4 separate regions of the Homo sapiens genome follow, and regions 1, 3 and 4 are each linked to region 2. The links come from fine-mapping of genetic effects on gene expression. A gene starts in region 2. Each other region holds a variant in brackets. All regions are shown on one strand. Distances are between the middles of the regions. Region 1 overlaps IL4R (interleukin 4 receptor). Region 2 holds the start of IL4R (interleukin 4 receptor). Region 3 overlaps NSMCE1-DT (NSMCE1 divergent transcript). Region 4 overlaps IL4R (interleukin 4 receptor).

The links.
Region 1: its variant is fine-mapped to the expression of IL4R in whole blood (TOPMed, PIP above 0.99).
Region 3: its variant is fine-mapped to the expression of IL4R in whole blood (TOPMed, PIP above 0.99).
Region 4: its variant is fine-mapped to the expression of IL4R in whole blood (TOPMed, PIP above 0.99).

Annotation. Positions count from the first base shown.
Region 1 is chr16:27,337,452-27,345,451 of GRCh38, reverse strand. IL4R (interleukin 4 receptor) reads right to left here. Exons shown (of 11, transcript NM_000418.4): 3 at 5,179-5,266; 4 at 3,193-3,331; 5 at 432-583. The coding sequence starts at 5,248. Among named protein-coding and RNA genes, the nearest start is that of IL4R, 27 kb to the right of the region's middle. The variant C/T (reference allele first, on the strand shown) is at 3,543.
Region 2 is chr16:27,308,958-27,317,166 of GRCh38, reverse strand. It overlaps IL4R (interleukin 4 receptor), which reads right to left and starts at 3,193. Exons shown (of 11, transcript NM_000418.4): 1 at 3,147-3,193. RefSeq lists silencers at 2,453-2,502, 2,943-3,152, 3,173-3,472 and enhancers at 3,250-3,980, 4,803-6,002.
Region 3 is chr16:27,284,896-27,293,104 of GRCh38, reverse strand. NSMCE1-DT (NSMCE1 divergent transcript) reads right to left here. Exons shown (of 5, transcript NR_037184.1): 3 at 6,361-6,443; 4 at 4,152-4,305; 5 at 2,637-2,860. Among named protein-coding and RNA genes, the nearest start is that of NSMCE1, 20 kb to the right of the region's middle. The variant C/T (reference allele first, on the strand shown) is at 5,094.
Region 4 is chr16:27,354,196-27,362,195 of GRCh38, reverse strand. IL4R (interleukin 4 receptor) reads right to left here. Exons shown (of 11, transcript NM_000418.4): 8 at 6,289-6,388; 9 at 3,202-3,280; 10 at 1,381-1,430. Among named protein-coding and RNA genes, the nearest start is that of IL21R, 44 kb to the left of the region's middle. The variant T/C (reference allele first, on the strand shown) is at 3,063.

The DNA.
Region 1 (8,000 bases), 28 kb before region 2:
AGGGGGATTCCTGCAGGGACTCCGGGTACCAGAAGAAGGTCAGCCTTCCACGGTCAAGACCATCCAAAGCCGCAGCAGCTGACCAGTGGACACAGAATGGAAGGAATGTTCCCAGTTCGGTTTTCAATCAGCAGCAGGCATGCCTTCCAGCAAGCACACCTCATCTCAATACGCCTTCCTGGGCACTTAAGTTCAGGGGTGGAAACAGCTGGGCTGAAGGGGGCTTGGTGGTCTACTGCGACCAGCTCCGTTTCAAAGGTGGGAGGACTGAGGCCCAGGCAGGGGCAGGAATCCCATCAGATTTGGGAAAATACAGGCGGCTTCCTCCTGCTGTTGCTATGACCCCACCTCCTCCCCTGCCCACCCCACCCTCAGCCCAGGCAGCTGTGGGAACACACCCAGCCACCCCTGCCGCACTCCGCCCTGCTCACCATGCTCGCTGGGCTTGAAGGAGCCCTTCCACAGCAGCTGCTGCCCAGCCCACAGGTCCAGTGTATAGTTATCCGCACTGACCACGTCATCCATGAGCAGGTGGCACACGCACCCCGCGCCTCCGTTGTTCTCAGGGATACACGTGTGGGCTCTGCAGACACAGGGGCTGGGTTAGGCTGGTCACCTGTAGGCTGGCTGGGCCCCACAGCTGTGTCCGGGACATGCCTCCAGGAACCGCATCAGACTCTTCCAGCTTCCCGATCACGGATGTGAGGACAGATCTGGGGGCTTGGGAGCGGCCAGGGTGTGCTGGGGCAGCCGACTAGGGTTGCCTCTCTTGCTGGCCACAGCCTCTTACCACATGCACCAAGGATGCTCCTCACACCTGCCTAGCTGCCGGCCCTGGTCCTGGGACTTAGCTTGTTCCTGAAAGCCCATGAAAGGGAAGAACCGGTGGCACTAATTAATTTAGAACAACATAAGCTCTGCATCGCACAGTTTGGCCATCGTAAGATAATTCCAATGTTCCACCTTAACAGCCAACCCACATCTCACGGGCTAGGCCAGGGGTCTGCAAACTTTTTCTGTAACAGGCCAGATAGTTAATATTTTGGACTTCAAAGGCCACACAATTTCCTTTTTTTTTTTTTTTTTTGGTTATTTGTATAAATTTAGGGGGTACGAGTTTTTTGTTTTTTGTTTTTGTTTTTTTTTCCTGAGACAAAGTCTCACTGTCACCCAGGCTAGAGTACAGTGATGTGATCTCGGCTCACTGCAACCTCCACCTCCTGGGCTCAAGCAATTCTCCCGCCTCAGCCTCCCTAGTAGCTGGGATTACAGGTGTGCGCCACTACACCCAGTTAATTGTTGTATTTTTAGTAGAGATGGAGCTTCACCATGTTGGCCAGGCCGGTCTCGAACTCCTGACCTCAAGTGATCTGCCCACCTCGGCCTCCCAAAGGGCTGGGATTACAGCCGCGAGCCACCACAGTGCCCGGCCTTACAAGTGCAATTTTGATGGCAAGCCTCAGATCTGTTCTCACTGGATATGCTGCCTAGTGGTGAAGTCTGGGGTTCTGGTGGGTCCGTCACCCAAATGGTGTACACTATGCCCATTAAGTAACTTCTCTTCCTTCACCCCTCTCCCACCCTCCCAAGTCTTCAATGTCTGTTATTCCATGGTACATGGAATAATGCCCATGTGTACACATTATTTAACTCTTACTTATAAGTGAGAACATGCAGTATTTGACTTTCCATTTCTGAATTATTTCAATTAAGATAAAGGAGGAGGCCGGGCTCAGTGGCTCATGCCTGTAATCCCAGCACTTTGGGACGCTGAGGCGGGTGGATCACCTGAGTTCAGGAGTTCGAGACCAGCTTGGCCAACATGATGAAAACCGGTCTCTACTAAAAATACGAAAAATTAGCCGGGTGTGGTGGCAGGCACCATTAATCCCAACTACTCGGGAGGCTGAGACAGGAGAATCGCTTGAACCCGGGAGGCAGAGGTTGCAGTGAGCCGAGATTGTGCCACTGCACTCCAGCCTGGGCAACAAGAGCGAAACTCTGTCTCAAAGAAAACAAACAAACAAACAAACAAACAAAAAACATAAAGGAGGGCCATGCAGTTTCTGTTACAACTACAGCAGCCAGTGTGTTCCAATAAAACTTTATTTACAAAAACAAGCAGTGGGCCGGATTTGGCTCACGGGCCATAGTTTGCCAATCCCTGGACTAAGCCAATGGAAACAAAGCACAGCCCATCTACCTTAGAATAATCATGGAATACCACCTTTACTGGTGAACGCTGCATGCTGGTGTGCCGTATATCCCCAGTCTGCCCCGTAACTGTGTGTCTTGTGTACGTGATTATGTCCTGGGCACCAGTGTAACGAAGCATCCTGTGCACCATGGAGTAGCCCAGGGAACCACCTGACTCCTATGCCATGTGTCCTGGTCCATCCACCATCACAGAGGACTCCACTCTCAACACCGTACTCCTCAATCAAGGGTCTAGTCCAGTGGTTCTCAAAGTGTGGTCTGGGCCCACCAGGTAAAACTCTTTTCATCATAATACAGGGACGTTATTTGCCTTTTCACTCTCTCTCACTGGCGTACAGTGGAATTTTCTAGAGGCTACATGACCTGTGATCATGTAATTGATCTGAAGATTTGTTGAATGCGGGCTTGCATGTTGTTGGGACTTAAAATTTCTCCATTTTGGGCCGGATACAGCGGCTCACGCTTGTAATCCCAGCACTTTGGGAGGCGGAGGCAGGAGGATCACTGGAGCCCAGGAGTTTGAGAGCAGCCTGGGCAACACAGTGAGACCTCCATTTCAGTAAGAAAAAAAATTTTTAATTGTTTTAATTTTTTAAAAATTACACCATTTCTTCATTGCAAGTTCTAATTAGGTAAACATAGAATGATGTGTTACCTACACCAAAGCCCTTTGGGTCCTCACTCATTTTTAAGTGTGAAAAAGGGTCCTGAGACCAAAAAGTGTGAGAACTGCTGGTCTAGTCCAGTATTCCAGCCGTATCCATGTGCCACGTGGACCAACACTCCCACCATGCGCTCCACTGTATCTTACATAACATGTCCCTGGAGATGGGACCTCCCCTCTAACACCATATAAACAGCAGCAAACCATACTCAGCATCCTGCACTCCAGCGCACCACCTGGACCCAGCTCACTCTTGGGGCAAACCCTTTGGGCACAACCTCCCCAAACCTCCAGCTCCAGCGCAGGCTTACTCGGAGAGCAGAAAAACCAGCTGGTACAACAGGCGGAGCTCGGTGCTGCAATTGGTGGGACCATTCATCTTCCACTCGCAAGTAGAGATGCTCATGTAGTCGGAGACGCAGGTGGGCTCCTGCAAGACCTTCATGTTCCCTGGGGAGACACAGGAGCAGCCTGAGCGGCCCAGGAACTCAATGCGTGAGGGGGACTTGCACCCAAACAGGACCAAGGGGAATAGCACAAAAGCACAGTGCAGGCAAAGTTGAGGGCCAGCGCCCACAGAGCTGGGGCCAGGACCAGGGCTGCTGGAGCTTCCCAGCTAGTGTCGGGATGACTGTGGAAGCTGAAGAAATACCCATGGGTG[C/T]GGGGGCCATTAGACAAGAACGAACCAAGTGCACCTTTATCTCACACAAACTTGACAACTTGTTCTTGGCCAAATTAAAGGGAAAATATGTAGCAGTTTAAGGAGTGCCATTCCATCACACCAAGCCTCTGCCCTCGAGCTAGGGGAAGTGCCACTTCCCCATTTGCCCACTATCTGCGCCCCTCTTTGTCTCCACCCCTTTCTGCCCTCTCTGTGCTCAGGAGGCTGATACCACAGTCTTCATCACCGGGTACCCTTGGCCTTTAGTTTCCGGTTGGGTTTGGCCAATGGGAGAGAGGAGATGGATGGGCTGGAGGAGACATCGGGGTCCTTCTCCTTTCAGCGCCCTCCTAGCTTGTCAGTGGCCATGGCAGGACTGGAATTGGCAGGATGTACACTGAGTTTGCTAAACCACCTGAGCATGAGACCACTCAGGCGCCTCCATGCTCCCATGCTCAGTGCCACGCCCATCTCAGCTGACAACAACTTGCATAAGGGCTTACCATGTTAAGGAGCTGTCTTAGATAGCAAATAAATATTCCAAGCTTATCTCATGTCCAAAACTAACTCCTGATTCCCGCCCCTCCCCAAAGTACCTTCTCTTCTGGCATCCTTCTGCATTTCAGAAATGACAACCGCGTCCTTCCCAGTAGTTTAGGTCAGAAATCTTGGAGTCATCCTGGCCACTTCTCTTTCTCTGTCTTTCACCTCAATTCCAATCTGTCCTCAAATCTACCTCCCAGAGGGATCCGGAGCCTCTCATCTCCTCCACTCCAGACCTCCCTCCAGACCTCCTGGCTTCCACCCTCTTCCTTTCTCCACACGGCATCCTGAAGAGTCCTTTGGAACATAATGGATGATATGGATCCTCTGCTCAAACACTGCAAGGTCTTTTTTGATTCAGCCACTCTGTCACCTTGCTGACCTTCACTGCTCCCTCCTGCTGCTCACTCTCCTCCACCACATTCCCTCCTGTGCTCAACCCTCCCGCCAGGCTCAGTGCAGGGCCTCTCTGCCAAGAATGAGCCTTCCCCAGACATCTGCACGGTTCCCGCTTCCTCCAAGTCAGCTCAATGAGGCCTTCCCTGACTTCCCTACTTTCAACTGCAATCCCCCCCACTCCACCCAGCTTCCCCAACCCCCTCTTATGCTGTTCTGTGTTCTTTCCCCATCACCTTCTCTTTTTTTTTGACAGGGTCTCACTTTCTCACGCAGGCTGGAGTGGAGTGGCGCGATCACAGTTCACTGCAGCCTTGACCTCCTGAGTTCAAGGGATCCTCCCACCTCGGCCTCCTGAGTAGCTGGGGCTACAGGCGTGCACTGCCACACCTGGCTAATATTTTATTATTTGTAGAGACAAGGTCTCCCTATGTTGCCCAAGCTGACCTCGAACTCCTGGGCTCAAGCGATCCTCCTGCCTCGGCCTCCTGAAGTGCTGGGATTACAGGTGTGAGCCACTGCACCCGGCTCCCATCACTTTCTAACAATCTTTAGAATTTACTGATAATCAGGGCCACTTGTCATTGGCTGTCCCCTCCCACTGCAGTGTAATCTCCATAAGGCCAGGTGACATACTGCAGGACCCTGGCACGCCATTAATAGCCAACAAATGAATGATTGAGAAGTGGTGACTTACCAGAGCTTGCCACCTGCAGCAGGACCAGGCAGCTCACAGGGAACAGGAGCCCAGAGCAAAGCCACCCCATTGGGAGATGCCAAGGCACCTGCAGAGAGAGAGGAAGCAGGTTAGTGCTGACCTGTGCTTCCAGCAGAGCTCATCTTATTCAATATGCAACCCTCCCCTGCCCTGGCCATTTATTTGTTTGTTTGTTTGCTTGTTTGTTTGTTTTTCCGAGACAGAGTCTCGCTCTGTCTCCAAGGCTGGAGTGCAGTGGTGCAATCTCAGCTCACTGCAACCTCCACCTCCCGGGTTCAAGCGATTCTTCTGCCTCAGCCTCCCGAGTAGCTGGGATTACAGGTGCCCACCACCACACCTGGCTAATTTTTGTATTTTTAGTAGAGACGGGGTTTCACCATGTTGGCCAGGCTGGTCTTGAACTTCTGACCTCATGATCTGCCCCTCTGGTCTTCTCGAAGTGCTGGGATTACAGGCCTGAGCCACTGCGGCTGCCCAGCCATGCCCTGGCCATTTGTGTCTCTGCCGACAACAGGTCCTCCACGTTCACAGAGCTCTCTCTATAATCATGAAACAACACCCAGACCCACAAAGTCCAGAGGGTGAGCTACACAACAACTGTCCTGGGAGATGCTTCTGGATGTGGCCTTCCTTGGACAACCCTCTACACATGTTTCTCTGATTATTTCCTGAGGTTTAAATACCTGCTCTGTCACTGACTAGATGTGAACCTTGAGCAAGCTGTGCTTCCATGCCTCAGTTTCCTTATCTATAAAGTGGGACTAAGAATAGCCCCATCTGATTGAGGTGTTGTGGGGATTAAATGAGCTAACACAGACAGAGCCCTCCAACAGTGACCGGAACACTTTAAAGTCTCAAGTAACGTTACAAGTCAGCTTAGTCCATATAGGCTGCTATAACAAAAATACCTTAGAGCAGGTAATTTACAAAGAACAGAAACGTATTGCTCTATTGGGTGCAATGGTGTGCATCTCTAGTCCCAGCTACTCGGGAAGGTGGGGTGGATCACTTGGAGTCCAGGGGTTTGAGACCAGCCTAGGGAATATAGTGAGACCTCATGGTGAATTTTTGAAAAATTGTTTTAAATTTTATTATTCAGGCCAGACACAGTAGCTCACACCTGTATTTCCAGCACTTTGGGGAGCCAAGGTGGGTGGATCACCTGAGGTCAGGAGTTCGAGATCAGCCTGGCCAACATGGAGAAACCCCGTCTGTACTAAAAATACAAAAACTAGCCGAGTGTGGTGGCGGGCACCTGTAATTCCAGCTACTCTGGAGGCTGAGGCAGGAGAATCGCTTGAACTGGGGTAGGCAGAGGTTGCAGTGAGTCGAGATCGCGTCATTGTACTCCAGCCTGGGCGACAAGAGCAAGACTCCATCTCAAAATAAATAAATAATAAATAAATAAATTTTCTAATGCATAGTTCTGGAGACTGGGAAGTCCAAGATCACGACACTAGGAGATCCAGATCTGGTGAGAGCCCATTCCTCACGGACGATGCCATGCTGCTGTGTCTTCATATGACAGAAGGGGCAAACACACTTCCTTCAGCCCGTTCATGAGGGCACTAACCCCATTCATGACCAACCACAGAGCCCTCATGACTTAATCACTTCTCCAAAGGCCCCATCTCTTAATATGACTACAATGGGATGAAGTTTCAACATATGAATTTGGGGGAACACATTCAGCCCATAGCACCAGCTATTATCATTAAGAAAAAAATGTTCAGAAGCCAGGTGTGGTGGCTCACACCTGTAATCCCAGCACTTTGGGAGGCTAAGGAGGGAGGATGGCTTGAGCCCAGGAGTTCAAGACCAGCCTGGGCAACAGAGTGAGACCTTATCTCTACAAAAATTAAACAAAATCAGCCAGGCACGGTGGTGCATGCCTGTAATCCTAGCTACTTGGGAGGTTGAGGTGGGAAGATCGTTTGAGCCTGGGATGTCAAGGCTGCAGTAAGCCAAGACCGTACCACTGCACTCCAGCAAGACCCTGTCATAAAAAAAAAAGAAAAGAAAAGAAAACAGAAAGTTTGGGAGGCTGAGGTGGGCGGATCACGAGGTCAGGAGTTTGAGACCAGCCTGGCCAACATAGTGAAACCCTGTCTCTACTAAAAATACAAAAATTAGCCAAGTGTGGTGGCGCACACCTGTAGTCCCAGCTACACGGGAGGCCGAGGTGGGAGAATTGCTTGAACCCAGGAGGCGGAGGTTGCAGCGAGCCGAGACCATGCCATTGCACTCCAGCCTGGGTGACAGAGTGAGACTCTGTCTCAAAAAAAAAAAAAAAGGAAAAGAAAAAAATGCTAAGAAGCAGAATCTCACGGAGTCAAGTGTGTACTTTTCCCCAGCACTCCTGGTACATAACGTCAAATACCCTCCAAAAAGTGTGTACTGGGGCCGGGCGTGGTGGCTCACATCTGTAATCCCAGCACTTTAGGAGTTCACAACCAGCCTGGCCAACATGGTGAAACCTGTCTCTACCAAAAATACAAAAAAAAATTAGCCGGGCGGTAGTGGCGCGTGCCTGTAGTCCCAGCTACTCAGGAGGCTGAGGCAGGAAAATCGCTTGAGCCTAGGAGGTGGAGGTTGTGGTGAGCCGAGATGGCACCACTGCACTCTAGGCTGGGCGACACAGTGAGACCCTGTTGCAAAAAGAGAAAAAAAAAAAAAAGAAAAAGAAAAAAAGAAAACAGCACGCGCTGGGTTATATTCCCTGCAACATTTCAAGTGCCCATCCTTCACTTCCCGCTTGGGTCTCTCTCCTGGGATCTTATTCAAAAAAGCAGCTCCCAGGC
Region 2 (8,209 bases):
TTTAGGAGGCTGAGGCAGGAGGACTGCTTGAGACCAGCAGTTCAAGACTAGCCTAGGCAACATAGCAAGATCCTGTCTCTAAAAATATAAAAACAATTAGCCAGCCGTGGTGGCACACACCTGTAGTCCCAGCTACTCAGGAGGCTGAGGTGGAAGGATTACTTGAACCCAGGTATTGGATGCTACAGTGAGCTATGATTGTGCCACTGTGCTCCAGCCTGGGAAATAGAGAGAGACCATGGCTCTAAAAAAAAAAAAAAGGTATTCATTTAACAAATACATAGTTTGTACTACATACCAGGTACTGTTTTGTATGCTTGACATATATTAACTCATTTAGTCATCACTACAATGGCATAGTCACTATAATCTCATAAATGCAGAAACTGAGGCTCTGGGAAGTCAGTTACACAGTAAGCAGCAAAGCCAGCATTTGCACTGGGTGATCTGGCTCAAGTCCATACTGTCACTCCCCAGCTATACGTTTTGACAGGTAACAACAGACATATACATTGATTGTGGACCCACTGGGTGTTGGACATTGTGTGAAGTAGCTTATAAAACATGTCATCAACCCTCAAGAAAGTTCACTTTTACAAATGTGAGGAAGAACAGTACTTAGGCGGCTTCTGTCCTGGCCTCACTCCCAGGTACCAGTGAGGGCAGTCGAGAGGTGGGGCATCTAATCCCAAACGCTCTCCTCCATCGTCCCAGATGGGGTGGGTGGAAGAGGGCAGGGAGATGGGGGAGGTAGAAAAGGTTCTCTCTTCTCATGTATTTATGTATTTGTTTATTTTGAGACAGAGTCTCGCTCTGTCACCCAGGCTACAGTGCAGTGGCACAATCATAGTTCACTGCAGCCTTGACCACCTGGGCTCAAGCCATCCTCCCACCTCAGCCTCCCAAATAGCTGGGGCTAGAGGCACCTGCTACCACGCCTGGCTAAGTTTTTAAATTTTTTTTGTAGGAACAGGATCTCACTATGTTGCCCAGGCTGGTCTCAAACTCCTGGGTTCAAGCGATCCTCTCTCAGCCTCCCAAAGTGCTGGGATTACAGGTGTGAGTCACTGCGCCCAGCTTGTCACTTCTTTGACAATTCATTTCAGCTCCTTTTTGAACTGGGAGCATTAGAAAACTGAACACCCCCACCCTTGCCCTGGGCATTTTGCAACCGGGATTGTATTGTATTAAACATATCAGTCATTGAGTCACTTCCTAGCATTTGGAAACCCTTAGGTTATCTCGGACCTGCCGGTAACTGCATGTGTTGTAAATGGGGTGAGTGACTGCAGGTTTTCCTCCCTGCTGCCTCCCCAGCGTCTCCCTCCAGATTCAGATCCAGAGGCCCAGGGTGGGGCCCAGGAATCTGCATTGTTGCTTTTACAACTCAAGCCAAGGTGAATACACTGGCCCAAGTTCCTTGGCATGGCATTCAAGGCTTTCCACAATGCAGCCCAGCCCAACTTTCCATCCATCTCTGGCTTCTGCTTACTCCCTAGGTTCTGTACACAGTGCCCTTTCACACTTCCCAGCCTCCGCCCACTCTGTGCCTCCCTTTACCTCCCATCCTCTACCTGCCAGACTCCCCTGCTCTACTCACAAGGCTAGCTCAGGGTCCCTGGGTGCTGGGAAGCCTGGCCCAGTGACCTTTGAAGAGCTGATCCCCTCTGGCTTGTGGTCCTGCAGCCGCTGGTGCATCCGCACCCTCCCAGCCCTCACGTCTGTCTTCCTGCAGAGGGGGTGCTCCTTGAGGCAAGCACCAGTGCCCAGAACACCACCCAGGGCCTCGCAGGAGCTGAATGAGTGCTAGTGAGTGAATGAGTGGCTTAGCAGGTCACCTCCCATTCATGGGCTGGGCTAGCCGAGTTCTAAGAAACCCCTGCAGGACCCTGGAATGCCCTAATGTGCAGGACACCCTGGCCAAACCTACACCTGAGCCTGTTTCCCCATTGGACTTTGGGATTTTGATAAAGGCACTGAGGTCCCAGCAAATGCCTTGGGCTCCTCATAGGCTACTGGGGGCAGGGAAGTGCAGTGGGTCATGCCTCCCAGAGGGCTGGGGAAGGGGAGAGACTAGAACTGGAGCAGGGTTAGCGCTGGCCTGGGGGCATTCCTTGAACCCCAGAAGCAGACAAACTAGTGGTCCCCTATCTTGCTTAAGTCTAAGAAATCCAGATTTTGTTTAAAAAAAAAATCAGGGCTCAGTGGCTCACACCTGTCATCCCAGCATTTTGGGAGGCCGAGGTGGGAGGATCACTTGAGGCCAGCCTGGACAACATAGTGAGACACCATCTTTATAAAATAAATTTTTAAAAATAAAATAAAGATCAGATTCCTGGGTTTACTGAATCTGAATCTCAGGGCAAGGACCTGGGAATCTGCATTTTAAGCAAATCTCCCGGAGATTCTGGTTATTGTGGGGGCTCCTCAAACGTGATTGAGAGATGGAGAGCAGCTGGCTCTGGCGTGGGATTGCCTGGGCTCTAGTCCTGCTGCCCCACGGACTCCCAAGTGGGCGGCACCTTAGGGCAAGTTACTAAAGCGGCTGGGGTCTTGGTGACCTCATCTGTACAATGTCCATGACGCACAGCACCGGCCACAGAGAAGTTAGTGGGAGGTTTCACTTGGCATCCTTTCAGTAAAACAAGTCCCAGTCAATGATCGCGATTATTGGGTCCATCTGATATTCGGAGGCGGAGACCGCCCCGATTCACTGACCTACTACTCAAATTTACAGTTCTCAGAACTTTCCCCACCCTTTCTCTCTCCGAAGTCCTCACTGACTTCCTGAGCGCAGGGCTGGGCGCCACTGCCCGGAGAAGAGGGGCTGCGTGGCCTCCGACAGCCTAACCCCAAGCCCCCCACCCCCGCAGGCCGTCCCGGCGGAGGTCTCACTGCCAGCACCGGCTTTGGGGAGCGCTGGGTGTCCACGTACCCCGGGCCTCGCGCCTCCGCTGCCGTTCGGCGGCAAGGACGGAACCGGGCGCTGCTCCGCGCGCACCGAGAGTCGCGGGCTCGGGCCCCGCTCGGAGTCGGGGTGGTCCCCGTGGTCCCCGCCGGCGGCCGAGCCCTTCCCGAACGCCCTCAGCCGGCGTGCCCGGGCGATACCTTCGCAACCCGATCCGCGCGCGGGCCCCGGATCCTACCTGCGCGCCCCTGCTCCATTCGCCGTCCGGGCGCCCAAGCGGGAAGTGGGGGACCCCTGGGTGGCCCTTCCCTGGCCCGCGCCGCGCGGGGCTTTCCTGGGCGCGGAGACCCAGCCCGCCCCGGCTTCCTGCTCCCCGCCCCGGCGCCCGGCAGATTTGCATGCGCCGCCCCGCCCGGCGCGCCCGGCCCGGGTCCCGGCCACCTCGCGCCCCTGTCGCTGTCCCCGCCGCCGCCGCCGGACAGTCCGAGCCGCCGTCCTCTCCTGGGGGCGACCCCAGCACCTCGCTGGGTGTCTTGCCGCGCGCTTCCTCCCACGCCGTAGCCCGAGGTCACGCCCAGCGGAGAACTCTGCAGTGGATCCCCTTGGTCTCGGAATAAAACGCCCACGCCGACCAGGCCTCCAGGACCTGCTCCTGCCTGGCCTCCGCGGCCTCTTTTGCGCCGGGGCAGTTGCGTTTGGTGGGGGAGGGCTGGGCGACTGGAATCCTCCTCCCCTTCCTAACAGCCCGGCTTCCAAGTGAGAGTGGTTGCACATTCTTCAATAAATGTTTACCCAACTCCTACTCCAGCCACATTTGGATAGTAAAACAGCCCTTCAATCAGTAACTAGTACAATCTGTCGGGCACTGCAAATGTTAACTCGTTCAATCCTGGCAACTACCCTATAAGGGAGTGATACTATCACCGGTTTTACAAATCAGGAAACTGAGGCACAGAGTCCTTAAGAAATTCAAAATGGGTTGGGCAAAGTGGCTCATGCCTGTAATCCCAGCACTTTGGGAAGCTGAGGCGGGAGGATCACTTGAACCCCATAGTTCGAGACCAGCCTGGGCAACCCTGTTAGCGAGACCCCTATCTACAAAAATTGACATTTATAAAATTTTAAAAAAGAAAAGAAAGAAACTCAGAATCACTCTGCAGGTAAGCAGGAGCAGGGGTGGAGCTGGGATTCGAACACAGGCCCCATAGACCATTAACGTCTGGACACCATAAGAACCCGGATGCAGCCAGATGACTGGGGGGAAAACACTCAACAAAGTATTTCAGGTCAGGAGGGCCCAAGAAGAAAGTAGGGACCTCTTAGACCAGTGGGGCAGGTGGTCTGGAAGAGGCTTTTTGAGTAGAGGCCATTTGAGCTGAGACTCTGAAGAGCCTATGGGGGAAGACTTGTGTAGGGAGAGGGAAGAGCTAGTGCAAAGGCCCTGTGGGAACCAGCTCAGCCTGCAGGAGGAATTGCTGAAGGCCGGCATGGCTGTGGAGCCCTGAGTGAGGAAAGAGCGGAGACAGGGGAGGTGGGAGATATTTGGACTCACACTGGGCAGTGCTGAGAACCCAGAGAGTAATTTGACCCCCTGCTGCCCTCAAGGAGCTCTCAGTTTGAGGGTGGAAGCCAAGGACTGCCCAATGGGATCAAGTGCTGTGGTGGAGGGTGAGGGTTGGCTTCCCAGGGCAGGGGCCACTGCACGTCAATCATTCTTTTTTTTTTTTTGAAGATGGGGTCTCATTCCATTGCCTAGGCTGGAGTGCAGTGGGTGATCTCAGCTCACTGCAACCTCCACTTCCTGAGTTCAAGCAATTCTCCTGCCTCAGCCTCCTGAGTAGCTGGAATTACAAGCGTGCACCACCACGTCCGGCTCATTTTTGTATTTTTAGTAGACATGAGGTTTCACTATGTTGGCCAGGCTGGTATCAAACTCCTGACCTCAGGTGATCTGCCTGCCTCTGCCTCCCGAAGTGCTGGGATTACAGGTGTGAGCCACCACGCCTGGCCCATATGTCAATCATTCTTTCATGTACTTGGTCTGTCTTGGTCCTACTGTGTGTCTAACCTTGTGACAAGCGCTGATGACGCAGACCTGAAGACATGAAACAGACACAATCCCTGCCCTCTGAGACCTTACAACCAAGTGAGCAAGACAGCCACCAACCCACCCCCGGAAGTGACAGTAAAGATAAGTCAGTTCCCTGGGGTCAGGGATGGCTTCCTGGAGGAGGTGACCTCTGACCAGTGCCTGAATCAATGCAGAAAAACATGCAGGTGGAAGGGACAGCATGAGCAAATACCTGGAGGTGGCGTGGGAGTGTGGAAAAACTCCCATCCTTCGGCATCTGTTTGTGGATGCCTCCATATGCCAAGTCGTGAGCTGGGGGCTAGGGAGAGCAAGAAATAGATCCAGCCCCTGCTTCCTAGCCCTGAGGACCTGGTTGGGGCACTGACAAGTGAGCAGACGTAAGCAATTGAAGTGAACAGATGTAAGCAATTGAGTGTAATAAACCCCGTACTGGGGGCAGCCCAGGCAGACGCTAAGAGGACTAGGGAGAGAAGGCCACAGGAAGGGCTTTCCTGGAAGCTTGGGTTTCAGGAGGAATAGGAATCCTCTGGATTAGGTGTGACTTCCACTCCCGTCCACACTCATACTCCCTCACACTCATTACTCACACATCCGCACACCCACACGGTTGATGCTTCATCCCAGGCAGTTCAGCCCTGCAAGCTGCCTTTGTCCTGTCTGTGTTTCTGAGTTTGTGCCCCATGTCATCGGGAGACGACAGCAAAAGTCTACCTTTGAAGTCCTTTGGGAATGTATGGCTTGGGCTATATCCCCTCCTGGACTCCCAAACTGGGCTCCCATCCTGTTTTCCCAGTCAAGTCATCCTTCGTCGGTTTCCTCGCTTGCCTCTAGACTGCCGGCATTGGCATACCAACTCTGCTACGTATTGACTATGTGACTTTGGGCAAAGTAGATCATCCTCCCTGTGCTTCAGTTTCCCCATCTGTAAAATGGGGATAATAATAGACCCACCTCATAGGGCTATGAAATGGTGAAATGGCAAGGTACGTATCGCAGTGCCTAGAATAGTGCCTGGCGTGGATTAGGCATTCAAAATGTCAATTGCTGTTCTTATCAGGATGAAAATGAGAAAGAAGCAAAGTCGAAGCCTGTTGCCTTGGTCTGTTGCTTGGTTGTGAAATGGAGATGAACGTGGCATTGAGAAGACAGGCAAAGAAAGCACAGCTGTGGTCAGAGGCTAAGACATTCAGGAAATCTGGGGGAAGAGACTTCGGGAATTCTTTGTACTCTTCTCCCAACTTTCCCGCCAGTCTGAAATTATGTCAAATTACAAAGTTAAAGAAAACAGGGCATTGTTCTCGGGTGCAAGAGAGATAATAAATGTCTTCTTGCATACAGTCCCACTGTTCAAGTTCCTGCCCAAGATGCCCAGACTTTATCTGTGACTGCTCCGTCAGTCCTGGGAGCAGGTCCAAAGGCACCAAGATAGTAAAACCTCTGTTCCCCCATCTAGGGGTTCCCAAGTCTTGCCTCAGTATAAGCTCAATCCTCATTATATCCTAACACGCTTACTTGTTTCCAAGCCTTTCGGTCTTTAAAACTAATAGAGTTTATTTTTTAGAACCATTGTAGATTATGGAAAAATTGAGCCGATAGTACTGAGAGTTCCCATACATCCCTCTCCCCCATGCAAAATTTCCTCTTTTATCAACATCTTGCATTAGTGTGTAGTGCCTTCCTTATAATGCTGATACATTATTATAAACTAAAGTCCATAGCATACATTGTTTCACTGTTTCTCGGGGTTTTGTTTTGTTTTGTTTTGTTTTGTGTTTGTTTGCTTGTTTGGAAACAAGGTCTCACTCTGTTGCCCAGGCTGGAGCAGCCTGGAACTCCTGGACTCAGGGGATCCTCCTGCTTCTGCCTTCTGAGTAGCTTGGGCTACAAGAACATGCCACCACACTAGGCTTTTTTTTTTTTATACTTTTAGAGACAGTCTTGCTACATTGCCCAAGCTGGTCTCAGACTCCTAAGCTGAAGTTATCCTTCCATCTCAGCCTCCTAAAGTGCTGGGATTACAAGCATGAGCCACTGTGCCTAACCTCTGCAGCACAGTTCTGAGTCTTTTTTTTTTCTTTGAGACAGAGTCTTGTTCTGTCACCCAGGCTGGGGTACAGTGGCGTGATCTCAACTCACTGCAACCTGTGCCTCCCAGGTTCAAGCGATTCTCACTCCTCAGCCTTCCAAGTAGCTGGGACTACAGGTGCACGCCTGGCTAATTTTTGTATTTTTAGTAGAGACGGAGTTTCCCCATACTGGCCAAGCTGGTTTTGAACTCCTGACCTCAAGTGATCCACCAGCCTCGGCCTCCCAAAGTGTTGGGATTACAGGCATGAGCCAATGCACCCAGCCAAGTTCTGGGTCTTAACAATGTATAATGCCATGGATCCACACATGTAGCAACAAAAAGAATAGTTTCCCAGCCTGGGCAACATAGCAAGACCCGGTCTCTACCAAAAAACACAAACAAACAACAACAACAAAAAACAGGCCAGGCATGGTGGTGCACTGTAGTCCCAGCTACTCAGAGGCTGAGGCAGGAGGATCCCTTGAGCCCAGGAGTTCGAGGCTGCAGTGAACTATGATCATGCCACTGCACTCCAGCCTGGGCAACAGAATGAGACCCTGTCTCTAAAAAAAAAAAGAAAAAAATAAAGAATAGTTTTACTTCCCTAAAAATCCCCAATTCTCTACCTATTCTTCCTGGATTCTGGAAACCACTGATTTTTTTACTGTCTCCATAGTTTTGCCTTTTTCAGAATGTCACGTAATTGAAATCAGAAAGTATGTAGTCTCTTAATACTGACTTCTTTTACTTAGCAATATGCTTTTCAGGTTCCTCAATGTCTTTTCCAGGCTTCACACCTCATTTCTTTTGTGGCTGAATAGTGCCCTATTGTATGGATGTACCACAGTTTATCCATTCTACCTATTGAAAGACATCTTTGTTGCTTCCAATTTTTGGCAATTATGAATAAAGCTGCTATCAACACTCATGTGCAAGTTTTTGGGTGGACATAAGCTTGCAACACAATTGAGTAAATACCAAGGAGCACAATTGCTGGATCATATGGTAAAAGTAAGAAAGTTTGGCAATAAACTGCCAGTGTCTTCGAAGCTAGCTGTAACATTTTGCCTTTCTATCAACAAGTGAGAGTTTCCATTGCTCTGTATTCTTGTCAGCTTTTGATATTGTCAGTTTGAGGATT
Region 3 (8,209 bases), 24 kb after region 2:
GGGAGGATCCCTTGAGTCTAGAAGTTGGAGGCATCAGTGAAGTTATTTAATATGATCACACCACTGCACTCCAGCCTGGGCAATAGAGCAAGATTCCGTCACACACACATACACACACACACACAAGAATCCCAAGTTCTGCAACAAGAAGTCAGCTTGGGGAGACAGCAGAGGACAGTCAACCTTCTGGAAGTCACCAGTACGGATGAAAGTCTCAGGGACCCCCTCAACAGTTAGGATTAGACCAGACCCTGGATTTCCACTCAGCTCTCTGGTAGGGAGGGTTCCCCATAATGACAGAGATTAACTTTCTCACCAGCCTTGTCTCTGGAAACACAGCGCTGGGCTTAACTTCATGTATTAGTAAAATCGGGAGGCGTTTCCTGCATCCAAGACAATTGTTGTCAGGGAAAAAGGTATCCCTATTACATCCGATTTACGTATTGGAGTTACAGGTAATTTCAACTTATAAAGGGGTTCATGAATAGGAAAATGTCCTGGTACTTAAAAGTGCAAGTTTGGCCCTGCACGGTGGCTCACGACCGTAATCCCAGCACTTTGGGAGGCCAGGGCAGGAGGATCACTTGAGGTCAGGAATTCGAGACCAGCCTGGCCAACATGGTAAAACCCTGATTCTACTAAAAATACAAAATTAGCCAGGCGTGGTGATGTGCGCCTGTAGTCCCAGCTACTCAGGAGGCTGAGGCAGGAGAATCACTTGAGCCCGGAAGGCAGAGGTTGCAGTGAGCCGAGATCATGCCACTGCATTCCAACTTGGGTGACAGAAAGAGACTCCATCTAAAAAATAAATAAATAAAATAAAAGTGCGAGTTTGGACAACTCTCATTCAGACCCATTTCAGTCTTTTTAAGAGCTAGTCTTCCCTACCCAAAGTGTTGGAGCACAAGAGAAAGCCTCTGGGTCTTCTCTACCTGCCTTATCTATGGGCCTGTGTGCTCAATATCAGAACGCTCACAGCTCCAGAATGTCTTTCATACTTCTTTGCCTTGTGTAGAACTTTTTCCTTTTTTGTCCACCTGGCGAACTCCTATTTATCCTTCAGTACCCTGCTGACACTGCCCCTCATCTGGGCATGAAAGTGTACAGGAGCCTTCTTGGATTCCTTCTCCTATGATAGACACAGTGTTATCTCTTTCTGCATTCCCACTGATCTGCACATGCAGCCCCAAGCTCAGACTGGCTTTCTCTCTGGATGTACGACACGCCATAGGAATTTGTTGTTTCAAATACAATTAAGTCTGGTGCCAAGGCCTCAAGCCCCAGAGTACAATAAATTGCTCTCAGTGGTTGTCTGGATTCTCTCTGTGCCTACAGAGAACCAAAGGGGGAAACAGAGGATAGGGGATGGGGTGTCCTACACAGCACAGACACTTAGAGAGGGCCCTCTGTCTCCTATCTGCAGCAGGCAACACAGTGCAGTATTTTCCAATTCCATCTGGTCCTGGAAGGTGGGTGTCCTCGCTACTCCTTCCCAGGTTGGGCACAGGCACCTGGCAGTGGCTGGGGGGGTGCAACCTCCCTTATAGCGTCATGCAGTTACTCCTGCTAGGGTCCTGGTGCCTCTCTGGGCACTTTGAGGCAACACAGCATTGTCACACCCTCCAAAATGCCCCCACCCCCATCATCCCAGTTTGGGAGATGCTTCCACAACTGAGGCCCCAGCTTTGGCTCATGCACCTCAGGCAACTTCTTCTGTTCGCTTCCTCCCTGGGAGGTTTCACTGGAAACACAAGATTGGCCTGGCAGTCCTAGGAGAGGGGCCAAGGGATGCTGCGGCCAGACACTTTCTTGCTAACACCCTATTTCTCCTAGATCAGCACTTACCTCACTCGTGATATTTCAGTCATTTATTTTCTGGCCTGGGCCTTCCTCTGAACTGTGAATCTTTTGATGCCAAGGAATGTCTCACCGACCTTGGTCTCCAAAAGGCCAAGTGTGGGCTTTCTAACTGGGGCTCTGCGGGCTGGGGGCAAGTTTTTTCTTTTTTGCTGGGAGGGGCAGGGGTGGAGGCAAATTTTTAAAGTCTCTCTGAGCCCATTTTCTTGCCTATAAAATGAGGACTACAATAATACGGATCTCGTTAGTATTTTTGGGATGAACTAAGCCAATGCATGTTAACCCTTTAGAACAATGTCTAACATGTATTAATAGCATAATTCATGTTAGCTGTCATTATTACTTTTTATTTCCATCACTGTTACTTGTAGTGGATGTTTGGTTGCCTACCAAGTAGTCATTCCAACTCCTTTTTTCCACTATAGAGACTGAAAATGCAAGGTACTCACCTCCCCAGGCTCCTTACAGCTAGGGGGGGTGGATGACCTAATCTTGGGCAATGGAGCTTGAATGAAGGTGTGCAAGGAGGCTTCTGGGAAAGATTTTCCTCTCTGATAAAAAGAGAGAGAGAGAAAGAGATTTTTGGACATTGTCTTGGAGGCAGGAGATACTTGGAGCTGTGACAGCCATCTTGCAACCATGAGGACAGAGCCAAGGATAAAAGCCAACATGCTGAAGATGTCAGAGCAGGGGCCTTTATAAGATCATTGAGTTTCTGCCCCAGCCCTGGAAACTCCTACCTTGGAACACTTTGCTAAATTCGATCTGAAATGCCTTTATTAGGAAAGCCATTTTTAATTGGGTACACTGGGATTAGTAGCTGAAAGTATTCGGAAATTTACAGTGGGTAACTGTTGAAAGAAAGTAGCCGGGTCAGGATGGAAATCCTGAACTCCCAGACTCAGATGAGAACAATAGCTGGCTGCCGACTTAGGCCATGGATGGGTGATGCTTCTTGGTCTACTAATAGGTGCTTGGCCTCATGGGCAGTTCCGCAGTCTGTCTGTGGAAGAGAGTGAGTACATGAAAAAAAATACAGCAAAAAGGAAGAGAAAGAAGACAGGGAGAGAGGAATCATTCACAAGTGAATGACCCCAAATCCTCAGGCTTCATTTCTGCTGGCACAACCTTGTTCATTTGCTCTGGGACATCCCATCATCAAATTGTAACATGGTTTCAATCCACTGTGGGATGGCAGAGAAACTACGGCGTATCATCTAACCTGGTTTCATCAGTATTTCTAACTTAGTTTTTGGCAGGTTATTCATTCTCTTGTGTTGGAGACACTGCCTTTCTGTGTTGCTGAGAAAAGGGGGGATGGGGCTATGCTTCTCTTATTTCTGGTTAATTTTGTGGCTAGAAAAAATTTCGTGGGAAAGACTAATGCACAACATATTTTTACCACATCAACTACCGGTCCCATCATGATGCAGGATGTTGCAGGAATCACTGATGTGCACCTTGTACAGGTTGATGTAATGCTTACTTCTTGGTTTGCAGGTCAAAAACAAGCTAGAAGTGAGGAGTGGTATCAATATACATTTTAAGGCCGAGTGCAATGACTCACGCCTGTAATCTCAACACTTTGGGAGGCTGAGGCAGGCAGATTATTTGAGGTCAGGAGTTCGAGACTAGCCTGGCCAACATGGTGAAACCCCGTCTCTACTAAAAGTACAAAAATTATCCAGGCATTGGTGGCGGGTGCCTAGTCCCAACTACTCAGGAGGCTGAGGCATGAAAATCACTTGAACCCAGGAGGCGGATGTTGTAGTGAGCTGAGATGGCACCATTGCACTCCTGCCTGGGTGCCAGAGTGAGACCCCATCTCAAAAAAAAAAAAAAAAAAAAAAAAAAATTTTAAGGATATGATCACTCTCCCAGAGGCAAGAAGTATCATTTCTCGACCCCAATGAGTGCTCTCTTTCCTCATGTCATCACATTTCTTTATATACGACTGTAGTTCATCTCTGGTACTGATCCTCCCCTTCCAGTATCCTTCTCTTTTGGGCCACTCTACTCAAACCATGCTTTCTGGGGTCAGCTATGACAGTGTCACCAAACACAAAGCCTTTCTTTTCCCAGTTCTCATGCAATCTTTTTCTCTCTGCAGCTGTTCATTCTTCATGAAATGCTCTCTTCTGTTAATTTCCAAGATTCCATACCTACCCTCCTGGTTTCTCCTGACCTCTCTAATCACCTCCTCTCACTTCTCATCCTGCCTTCTAAATGTAATCATTCACATCCTCTCCTTTTTCCTCTAGCATTCTTCTGGTTCTGCTCATTTATAAACTTACTTTTTCCCTTCTTGGGTACATGACCACCATCAAAGCTTCCACAATACATAAGTATATATATTCAGTGAATGTTTCCCCGGATCTATTCTGGCCCTGTCCAATCCGATTTCCCAGATGGAACCTCTGTGAGCATTGGGTGTGCATTCTTCCAGACCTGGTACAAGCAGACACATCATTCCATAGTGTGATGATTTTGTTTTGGTTTTATTTTGTTTTGTAGAGACGTGGTCTCCCTATGTTGCCCAGGTTATTCTTGACCTCCTGGGCTCAAGCAATCCTCCCGCCTTGGCCTCCCAATGTGCTGGGATTACAGCCATGAGCCACTGCACCCAGCCCATAGCATGGCATTGACTACAGTTCTGCGTTGGTCATTTAAAGTCTCCACATTTAGCCCTGTCCTTTCTCCCATGCCCTAGTATTTTATTTATTTATTTATTTATTTATTTATTTATTTATTTATCTATGAGACAGGGTGGTCTCACTCTGTCACCTAGGCTGGAGTGCAGTTGTGCGACCTCGGATCACTGAAACCTCCACCTCCAGGTTTCAAGCGATTCTTCTGCCTCAGCCTCCCAAGTAGCTGGGATTACAGGCACCTGCCACAACGCCCAGCTAATTTTTGTATTTTTAGTAGAGATGGGGTTTTGCCATGTTGGCCAGGCTAGTCTCGAACTCCTGACCTCATGTGATCCATCTGCTTCGGCCTCCCAAAGTGCTGGGATTCCAGGCGTGAGCCCCCCGACCTGGCCCATGCCCTCGTGTTTCATGATCCACACCTTGAGCATGTTCTCTCACACCTCTTGCCCTCAGAATGCCTAGGGCAAAGTCATTGTCTCTCGCGAGCTAACTTCTGTGCTTGGACGGTGTCACCATCCAATTAAGCAAGCTGGAAATGATGTTGTCATTGTTGACTTCCCTCTCTGTCTCTCTTTCCCATTCTCG[C/T]TTGTGAAAGACAGTCACAGCAGCCATGGGCTGTGCACTCTGCTTCTTTTTTTATTTCCCAGCTTTTAGGTTTTGGGGGTACCTGTTCAGGCTTGTCACATGGGTAAATGGTGCGTCGCTGAGGTTTGGGGTACAAATGACCCCATCACCCAGGTACTGAGCATAGTACCCAATAGGAAGCGTATCAACTCTTGCCCCCTCCTACCATCCTCCCTCTAGAAGTCCCTCGTGTCTATCGTTCCCATGTTAATGACCATGCATGTTCAATGTTTAGCTCCCACTTATAAGCGAGAACATGCAGTATTTGGTTTTCTGTCCCTGTGTTAATTCACTGAGGATAACAGTCTCCAGCTGCAACCATGTTGCTTCAAAGGACATGATCTCATTCTTTTTTATGGCTGCATAGTATTCCACGCAGTACCCTCCACTTCTGTGTTCATTTTCACATCTGGCTTATTTCCCACTCCTTGCTGCTTCTGCCCTGGTCCAGCCCCACCCTCCTCTCACCTGAAGTAAAGCTATATCCTCCAAGCTGCTTTCCCTGTTTTTTGTTGCTTGTGACATCCTCTGTATGTCGCCTACTGTGAGGCGAAAGCAACTCCATTTTGGATGCAGATCCACCATGTTGACTTAAGATTCACCACAGTTGCAGGAATGCCTCTAAGATTTCTACTTACTGCAAAGCCTGCCCTTAGGTCAAAACAACCTTGATGTTATTGTAAACACATGCTAATCATAAATCCTGCCCTTAGGCAATTTCCCTATGGTATATAAGCCCTGGTCTTGGGGCTGGGAGGTAGCAGCACAGGGGACTACTATTTCTCAACCATTGGATACGTGGCTTCTCTTCACAAGTCCCAGTTAAATGCTTCTTTCTAGGAAGCCACGGCTCCAGCCTATAATCCCAACACTTTGGGGGACTATGGTTGGAGGATCACTTGAACCCAGGGCTTTGAGGCCAACATGGACAACATAGTGAGGCCGTTTCTACAAAACATTAAAAAAAAATTAGCCAGGTGTGGTGTGTGACTTGTAGTCCCAGCTACTCGGGAGGCTGAAGTGGGAGGACTGCTTGAGCCCAGGAGGTTAAAACTGTAGTGAGTTCTGATCACATCACTTCACTCTAGCCTGGGTGACAGAGTAAGCCCCTGTCTCTAAAAACAACAATGACAACAACAACAAAAATTTGTCTCTGAAAAACTGGGTTTGTCAGCCTCTTTCTTCAACCTCTCAGCTTCCTCGGCCTTTGGGGTAGGTTTGTACTGACCTCCCACTGTGTATCACTGGCCAGTTATCGTCGCACTTCTTCTTCCCTCCTGATTAATTCAGGCTGCAATGGCCCACACATGCCTGGAGAATGAATCAGGGTTGACTTAGGCCAGAAATAACAATCCCACTTCCCTTTCACGGATTCTGACTTGCCCAGGCTTCCTTGCAGTAAGAGGTGCTGATGTGATTCAGTTTTTGCCAACAAGATCCACAGGGGAAATCTGGGAAGAGGCCCATGAAGAGAAAGACCTCCTGCCCTACCTCTTTCCTGGCACCATCATTTTCATCTGTGGCACTGAACACCTGTAAGGCCTAGCTCCAGACTTACCTTTCCTCCAACATGACCCACTTATGTTGCCAGTCACTTCTTACCTACCTTATGCTGGAGCTGGGGGTAGGGGCTTGGGAATTCAGGTCAGTTACATCATGCATCATAGTTGGTCTCCAAAGATGGCCCCAAATGAAGCCACCTCCCAGTGTTCGTGTTCTTATGCAGCCCTCTCCACTCTGAATCTGCACTGGTCCTCTGAAATATGTTAACTCACAGAATAAAAAGATAATGATGCTGTGCTAGTCTGGGCCCAAGCCTGAGGAAGAACAAGATATTCTGATGTTATCCTCTCCGGAGCCCTGAGCCAGCACACAAGAAACCCAACTGCCCTGAGACTGCCACGTTTTGAGGAAATGTAAGCTGACCACAAGGAGAGGCCACGTGGAGGAGAACTGAGACTCTCAGCCAACATGGAGGACCAGGCTCCAATCTCATGATGTAGTATGAGCCATTCCAACCAGCCTCCACCCATTTGCGTCCCCTGAGTTGACACCACGGGAAGGAAAGATAAGCTGGGTAAGTTGGGGTGAAAATGTAACTGCAAATCATATCCTCTGTTCAATCTCAATAGCCTTCTCATTTTTTTTTTTTTTTTTGAGACAGGGTTTCACTCTGTTGCCCAGGCTGGAGTGTGGTGGCAAAATCATGACACACTGCAGCCACAGCCTCCCAAGGCTCAGGTAATCCTCCCACGTCAGCCTCCTGAGTAGCTAGGACTATAGGCATGCACCACCATGCCTGGCTAATTTTTAAATTTTTTGTAGATACAGGATCTCCCTGTGTTGCACAGGCTGGTCTCAAACTCCTGGGCTCAAGGGATCCTCCCGCCTTGGCCTTCCACAGTGCTGGGACTACAGGTGTGAGCCGCTGCACCCAGCCAGCCTTCTCTTTCTTGCAAATGATTGCACTCTTCTGCAGCTTCACTTTGCTTACACGGGCCTCTCAGCCTGCATTACCTTTCCTCTGCATCAGTTATCCCATCCTCTAAAGCTAATCTGGAAAGCCCCCACTTCTATAAACCTTCCAGATGATGTCAACTCTGAAGAGTGGGTATTTGGACCAGCTCTGCAGCAAGTGTGTACTTTTGCTCACTATGCACCTACCCTCCCTCTCTTGTTGTAACAGCACCCCAGTTTTGTTTGGATGAACTCCCCCCACCACCTTTTAGTGCAACTCTGTCAATCAAGTTGTCCATTAACTTGTGTTTCAAGTGGGACGTAGAACCCGCCTGGGCCAATCAGTTGTTTCTCTCTCTCTCTCTCTCTCTCTCTGTCTCTCTCTCTCTCTCTCTGCTCTTACTCTTTCTCCAGTGCAAATCCTGAGAGGGTGACAGATAGCTGAAAATGGATGACAGCCTGACCAGACCTCCATAAGCTGCTGCTGGCAAGGTCTGCCAAGTTCTCTGGTCCACATTCAGTCCCAAATCTGAGGCTCCAGCATTTTCATTTGAGTCTACGAGCCACCCTGGAGCAGAGACAGTAATGCTCGCCAATGATTCCATTGTTCCCTTTCATTT
Region 4 (8,000 bases), 45 kb before region 2:
ATTCTTCAAAGCCCAGCCTGAAATCACCATGTCCTGATGGCTGTCTACTTCAGACATGCCTTCTAACGTTATAATCAGTAATTGATCAGTCTATGTTGCTAGAATGAGAAATCCCTGAGGGTAGGGTCTGTGTCTTTGGGATTTCGGGAACCCAGCACATGTCCTGGGCACCAAATACAAGCTCAGATCTGTTGAGTAAGAAAAAGTCTTTATGGATGATGATAATTAAAAGCAACACCATTATCCCAAGCCATGACCAATTAGAAAGGATATGGAAGCCGGGTGCGGTGGCTCACGCCTGTAATCCCAGCACTTTAGGAGGCTGAGGAGGGAGGATCGCTTGAGCTCAGGAGTTTGAGAACAGCCTGGGCAACAGAGCCCAAGCCGTCTCAAACATCTCTACAAGAATTAAAAAAAAGGAAAATTAGCTGGGCATGTTGGTGTATGACTGTAGTCCCAGCTACTTAGAAGGCTGAGGCTAGAGAATCACTTGAGCCCACGAGTTTGAGGCTGCAGTGAATCACTGCACTCCAGCCTGAGGGACACAGCAAGACCCTGCGTCCAAAAAAAAAAAAAAAAAAAAAAGATGCGGGATCCTAGGGTTGAAGCAGGGTCCTGGACCCCCTTTAGTTTCTGGAGTATGGAAAGGTCCAGCAGGCCCCAGGGAAGAAGCTAAGGAGGCCACAGTGGCGGGGCAACACAGCGAGAGCTTGTCTTTACAAAAACTTTTTTTGGTATTATTTTTTTTGAGACAAGAGTCTCACTCTGTCGCCCAGGCTGGAGTGCAGTGGCACAATCTGCGCTCACTGCAACCTCTGCCTCCCGGGTTCAAGTGATTCTCATGCCTCAGCCTCCTGAGTAGCTGGAATTACAGGCAAAAACCTTTTAAAATAGCCAGGCGTGGTAATGCACATCTGTAGTATCAGCTACTCGGGAGGCTAAGATGGGAGGATCACTTGAGCTCAGGAGTTTGAAGGTGCAGTGAGCTATGATCGCACCACTGCACACCAGCCTGGGCCACAGAGTGAGATCCTGTATATTAAAAAAAAGGAGGGGAGTGTTCAGGATAGTGGCTATTTGCCGACAAGTATACAATTAGGTCAAGATTTTAACAACAGGCACGGCTGCTCTGGTTGTTAACTATAACAGCACTCCCAAGGGGTATCACCATGTACCTGACACACCAGTGAAACTCAGGGGGCTTGGCCAGCAGTCCACGTTTCCAGAACACCCCTCCTCCTGCCGTCCCTTGAAGGCTAATGTCACAGGGCAATTACCGAATGCAGGGAAGAGAAGGCAGACATGGAGCTAGGGGCTTGCCTCTCCAATTCTATCACCTTCCCAATGCATGCAGGCTGTGACCTAAGTTCAGATACATACGGGCACTTGGCTGGTTCCTGGCCTCGGGACCGCTTCTCCCACTGTGACCCCTAAAATACAGAGACAGCCAATGAAAGAGCAGAGTGGCCTTGCAGCCCGGCCTGGAGTACGGCAATGCTCAGGAAGGGGTACAAGCCTCGACATCACACAGATCAGAAGTCCAACAGGTCACTTACGCTTTCTGAGCTTCAGATTCCTGGGAATTAATTACATTGTCCTAATATTTACAGGGACTGTGGTCGATGGCAAAAGTGGCCACAGAGGAGTGCTCTGAATCTCCTCCCATCCCTTGAATCTACACTGGCCCTGGGACTTGCTTGGGCCCATAGAATGTGATGGAAGTGATATCATGCCAGTGCTGCGCCTAGGCCTCAAGAAGCCTTGGGACTTCCCACCCTTGAAAACTGAGCCACTCTGTAAACAAGCCTGGGCCGGCCTGCTGGAGAGTGAGAGGCACATGGCTCAGGCACCTGCACTGTCCCAGGTAAAAGTCAGCCAACTAGGCTGGGTGCAGTGGCTCACGCCTGTAATCCCAGCACTTTGGGAGGCTGAAGTGGGTGGATCACCTGATATTAGGAGTTCCAGACCAGCCTGACCGACATGAAGAAACCCCATCTCTATTAAAAATACAAAATTAGCCTGGCGTGGTGGCACATGCCTGTAATCCCAGCTACTTGGGAGGCTGAGGCAAGAAAATTGCTTGAACCCAGGAAGCAGAGGTTGCAGTGAGCCAAGATCACGCCATTGCACTCCTGGGCAATAAGAGCAAAACTCCGTCTCAGAAAAAGAAAAAAAAAAAAAAAGCCAACTGTCAGACACGGAGGGAGGCTACGGGGACGGGTCAGCTCAATTCAGATCTGCCCAGCCCAGCCCAGCCCAGCCTCCCCCGCCACCCTCACTGCTGAGCCCAGCCCCAAATGCCAGCCTGCAGAAGCATAAGCTAAATAAAGTTGTTGTAACCCTCTACATTTCGGGGTCGTTTGTTACACAGCAAACACTAACTGATACATAAATGGCACTTGGTATTTGCAAGAGGCTGGAATATGCACTTTATATGTATTGTCTCAATAAATTCCAATATCTGTCCTACCAGGTAAACACTGTTATAACCCACAAGAGGAAACTGAGGCTCAGAGAATTAAGCAACTTGCTCAAGTCCACACTGCCAGTGAGTGGCAGAGTCAGGATTCAAAGCCAACACCACTAGATTCCAGAGTCCCTGGAAAAGCAAGGACCCTCAGACCTTCTCTTCTAGACAGGACCTATAATCCCCCTTTCTCCTACCTAGAGAACTCTCATCTTGCTCAGGCAAACCCCACCCACTCACCCACAGGACCATCGCCTTGGGGAAGCTGACTCCACCCCTGGCTTAGGGGTGGGATACATTTCAGGCCAATGAGAACCCGGAAGGGATTTGCTAGTGCTTCGGGGGCAGTTTCCTATGCTTAAGAAGAAGACACAGAAAGCCTGTCACCCTCTCCTTCCTCCACTCCTTCTGGCCTCTAGCCCTGGTACTGGCACCTCCCCAGGGAATGACACAGTGATGATGACCCAAGGGTCATTCTCCCAAGGGGAGGGAAAAAAACAGGAAACCAACCCCAGAGAAGCCCACCCCAGGCTGGGATTGCCAAGGGGAAGGGCGGGAAAGCCTCTGGTCTGCTAATGACCTCATTCGGCTTCTG[T/C]CTCTGTCTCCCCTGCAACCCTCCTGACTGTCTATTTGCCATTCCAGAAGCCAGTGAAGGTCCTTAACAGCCCAGGTGTTCTGAACCACACTTCTTCATGTACACAGTCCCACATGTCCTCATCCACGCCTACTCCTACCTGAGCATCCTGGATTATTATAGCCACGAGGCGGCTGCGGGCTGGGTTGGGAATCTGATCCCACCATTCTTTCTTAATCCTGAAAAACAAAAGGAAAAGGTGTTGATCTCTGAATTATTGACAGGTGAACGCTCCTCCCATAAAAGTGGTCGTTATCACCAATACTTATTTGGCATCAGAGATCAGGCTGATTAGTTTCTGGAGGTCAAACCACTGACTCATCATTCTAACCTGGTGACATGGATTCTATTGCTAACCCTATTCTACAGATGAGGAGAGTGAGGCCCAAGGAGGTGGAGTGACAGCTGGTAGGTGGCAGAGCCAGGTTCACACTCCCGCATTCTGTTACCCAGCACAGAGTTCCTGAGGAGGCCACCTATGTCCTCAGTGGGAATGAGACCCCAGGGGATTAGGAAAGACTCAAACTGCAGAGAGAGGATTCTAGGTTCCCCTCAACAATCCCTTTTTCAGAGCAGCTGAGGGCAAATGACCAGGGAATGGCCTGGGATGGCCTGGGAAGCTGGGGGACCTACGGAGAAACACAACCCTTCTCTCTTCCTGGCCTGCCTGGGGCCATGGTGCATCATCACTGGGAGGTAAGGTCCTCAGACCGCTTCTGAATTAGCCTCTGCCCATGGTTTCAATAAATAAACACATATTTATTGAGCACCTTCTATGTTTGACTCACTGTGCCTGGCCCTGAGGCCACAACAGTGAACGAGACAAAGATGCCTGCCTTGGTGAAACTGACCTTCAAGAGGGAAAGATGGATGATAAATGGAGACAGAAATGCTTATATGAGGCCAGGCATGGTGGCTCACGCCTGTAATCCCAGCACTTTGGGAGGCCAAGGCAGGTGTATCACCTGAGGTCAGAAGTTCGAGACCAGCCTGGCCAATATGGTGAAACACCGTCTCTACTAAAAATGCAAAACTTAGCCAGGCATGGTGGCAGGCGCCTGCAATCCCAGCTACTCAGGAGGCTGAGGCAGGAGAATCGCTTGAACCCGGAAGGCGGAGGTTGCAGTGAGCTGAGATCGCGCCACTGCACTCCAGCCTGGGGGACAACATGAGACTCCATCTCAAAGAAAAAAAAAAAAAAACGAAAGAAATGCTTATATGAGGTCATTCATTCATGGTAATAAGTGCCATGAATAAAGATAAAGGGGTAGAAGTTCAAGATCAGCCTGGGCTACATAAGTGACAGCCAGTCTCTACAAAATGTAAGAAAATTGGCCAGGCACAGTGGCTCATGCCTGTACCCAGCACCTTGGGAGAACGAGGTGGGTGGATCACTTGAGGTCAGGAGTTCAAGACCATCCTGGCCAACATGGTGAAACCCCATCTCTACTAAAAATACAAAAATTAGCTGGGTGTCGTGGCACACGCCTGTAATCCCAGCTAGTCGGGAGGCTAAGGCAGGAGAATCGCTTGAACCCGGGAGGCAGAGATTGCAGTGAGTCGAGATCGCACCACTGCACTCCAGCTTGGTTTTTGAGACTCCACTCTGTCCCAAAAAATAAAATTAAATTAAATTAAAATAAGAAAATTAGCCAGGTGTGGTGGCAAGCGCCTGTTGTCCCAGCTGCTCTGGAAGTTGAAATGGGAGGATCTCTTTAGCCCAGGAATTGGAGGCTGCAGTGAGCCGTAACCGCGCCACTGCACTTCAGCCTGGCTAACAGAGTGAGACCCTGTCTAAAAAACAGAACAAAACAAGAAACCAAAGACAAAGAACAGCAAAGAGGCTGGCATGCTGGGATATAGTGATGGGGAGTGGGAAGAGGTACAGGTGATGGGGAAACTGAGGCTCAGAGCAAGGCGATCAGTCCAAGGTTGCTCGGAGGCATCAGTGACAAGATATGGAGGGGAATTTGCATTCCCTGCCTACCTAGTGTGTGCTGGGCCAAGAGTGGGCACTTTCATCAATCATGTTAATAATCCTTAGCCACCTCTAATCCTGACTTAGTGAGGTTGAGCTTGCTAGTCCCATTTCAGAGATGGGAGGACTGAGGCTCTGAGACACCATGATTCCAAGGGCTGGCAAGAGCTCTCTGGAAACGAGGCTCCTTCCACCACCTCCCAGCCACTCGCCACTCATCTCCTCCCTCAGCCTTTACTGTGATTTGGCCTCTTCTGGCTGATGAAATATGTTCTCACCATCACTGTCACTCTGCAAAGCAGGAACCCCAGGCTCAGGGGTTTCAGCAACTTGTCGGCCGCCAGCTACCAAGCTCCAAGGCCAGGATTCAAACCCAGGTCTCCTGACTCCATCAGGGCAATCGTCGCAAATTCCTCTGGCTCCTACCACATGCCCCCAGATGCCCCCAGTTGCCCAGGCACCCAGCGTTGTAAGGGGATGTGGGATGACTCCATCTTGCTTATCCCTGGCCAGCTCATTCTCCCCAGTCAGGGCCCCCCTCAAATTTTCCCTCCTTGGAGAGCCTTATCCTGGTCCCCCTTGCAAAAAGCACCCCAGAAGATCTCTGGCCTGCACCCTGGTCTAGTGCATTCAGAGAGTGGGTCACTATGGAAAACCACCTGTTTGTGATTGATATGTATTTTCAGTCTCCCCAGTAGGATGCCGGTTTTAGAAATGTGGAGTCCTGGTTGGGTGCAGTGGCTCACACCTGTAATCCCAGCACTTTGGGAGGCTGAGGCAGGCAGATCATGAGGTCAGGAGTTCGAGACCAGCCTGACCAACATGGTGAAACCCCATCTCTACCAAAAATACAAAAAATTAGCCGGGCATAGTGGCATGCGCCTGTAATCCCAGCTACTCTGGAGGCTGAGGCAGAAGAATTGCTTGAACCCGGGAGGCGGAGGTTACTGTTAGGCAAGATTGTGCCACTATACTCCAGCCTGGGTGACAGAGTGAGACTCCGTCTCAAAAAAAAAAAAAAAAAAAAAAAAAGAAAAAAGTGGGGTCCTTGTCGATATGTTCTCAGCTCTACTCTCAAGGTGTGTAGTAGCTGCTCAGTAAATGCGTATTATTGACTGAGAGGACTGCAAAGGGGCAGACTAGAGGGGCAAGTCCCTGCCACCCTGCACTCCAGAGGGACTGCTCGGCAGCACTGGGCCCAGGACTCACTTGGTGATGCTGACATAGCACAACAGGCAGACGGCCAGGATGACAATGCAGGAAACGCTGACGCCCAGCAGGAGGTGCTGCTCGAAGGGCTCCCTGTAGGCTGGAAGTGGGAGGGGAAGCCATGAGCTGAGGTCAGCCATGGTACAGCCTGGGCTCCACTTCCCAGGACTGGAGACCCAGGGTCAGGACCCTCGTCCGAGACCCTCCACGATCTGACCGCCGACCACCCCTCCACCTCATCTCCCCACCACTCTCCCTCTTGCACATTGAGTCCTCGTCACACCGGCCACCTCATTGCCCCCTGCTCCTCCAAAGCTCAGTGCCACCTCCAGATCTTAAACTTGCTGCTCTTTCTTTCCGGAAGCACAGAAGTCAAATGCACCAACTTAGGAGCCGGATGGCTCCTTGCTGTGTGACACAGGACAAGTCCCTTATCTTCTCTGTGCCTCCGCATCCTCATCTGTACTATGGGGTTAATGACAGAATTGATCGTGCAGGGCTGTTGCGAGGATGACATGATGAATCAATAGATAATGCACTCAGAACAGAGTGGCCTGTCCACATCATTAGCTGCCATCATCTCAACACGGTTGACTTCTCCTTGTTCACTTTCATCGTCACATTCTCCAAAAAGTTTTCCCCGACACCCTCCCTACCGTTGCCCCCTGCCCATCGCTCCATCCCCTTCCTCTGCTTTTATTTTCTTCCCAGCACTCACTGTCATCCAGATCCATGTGATTTCTTTCTTTCTTTATATGTTTGCTTTTTGTCTCTCCCTCCAGAATGTCAGCTCCACAAGAGTGGGGATTTCTATCTGCTTTGTTCATCGCCGATTCCCCAGTGTCTAGCACAGGGCTAGCCATGTAGGAGGAACTCAGCAAATATTTGCTGAAATAATGAATGAGGGTCCCATACATTGTTATCTGTTTCATACAAGCTAGTTCCCTTCCCCATGCCAATGGCAGATGAGAATCAATTCAAAACTTTCCCAAGCACCTGGTTCTGTGCTGGGTTCTGGAGATACAGCCATGGAGACCCTGCCTATGGAGCTCACAGCCCAGGGCAGGAGACACGTGGCTCAACTGATATCCACAGTGCAGGATGAGCAATGCTGAGAGGGCTGTGCGGTGGCAGGGTCAGGGTACTGCCAGCTGCCACTGCACCTACCACGTTGAAGAATCTTCTTTCATTGAGTTTTTACGACAGCCCTTACTCCTCCCATTATACAGATGGGGAAACTGAAGCAGTCTTCTTCACTCAACAGCTTTTTCCTCTCTCCCTTGTCAGGGAGCCATGCCCACCCTAAGGCTTGAGCCAATCACGATTATCCTGTTCCTTTTTCCAGGCATTTGAGTTCCCAGTCTTCCTTGCAATGAGCAAGTAATAACAGTAACCATGTAACATGTAACAGTCTTGGCCAATGAGATGTAAGGGGAATTTTGCTAGGGAAGCTTCTAGAAAGATGTTTGCTTCCTGATTAAAAAAGAGATGCACAAGGTACACTCTCTCGTAGCAGCCTTTCCTTTCCTTCCTGCTTTATGTAAGACAGTGTGCAACGGCCAACCTGAGGGCATGGGTGGCAAGTCTAAGGATACAATGCCACCATGTGAAGGATGGCAGAAGGGAAGACAGCAGAAGGGAAGAGATATCACTTGGCTGCTGTACAAAACCCAGTAGGTCCATTTGTAAGACTTCATTTTATGTGAGATAAT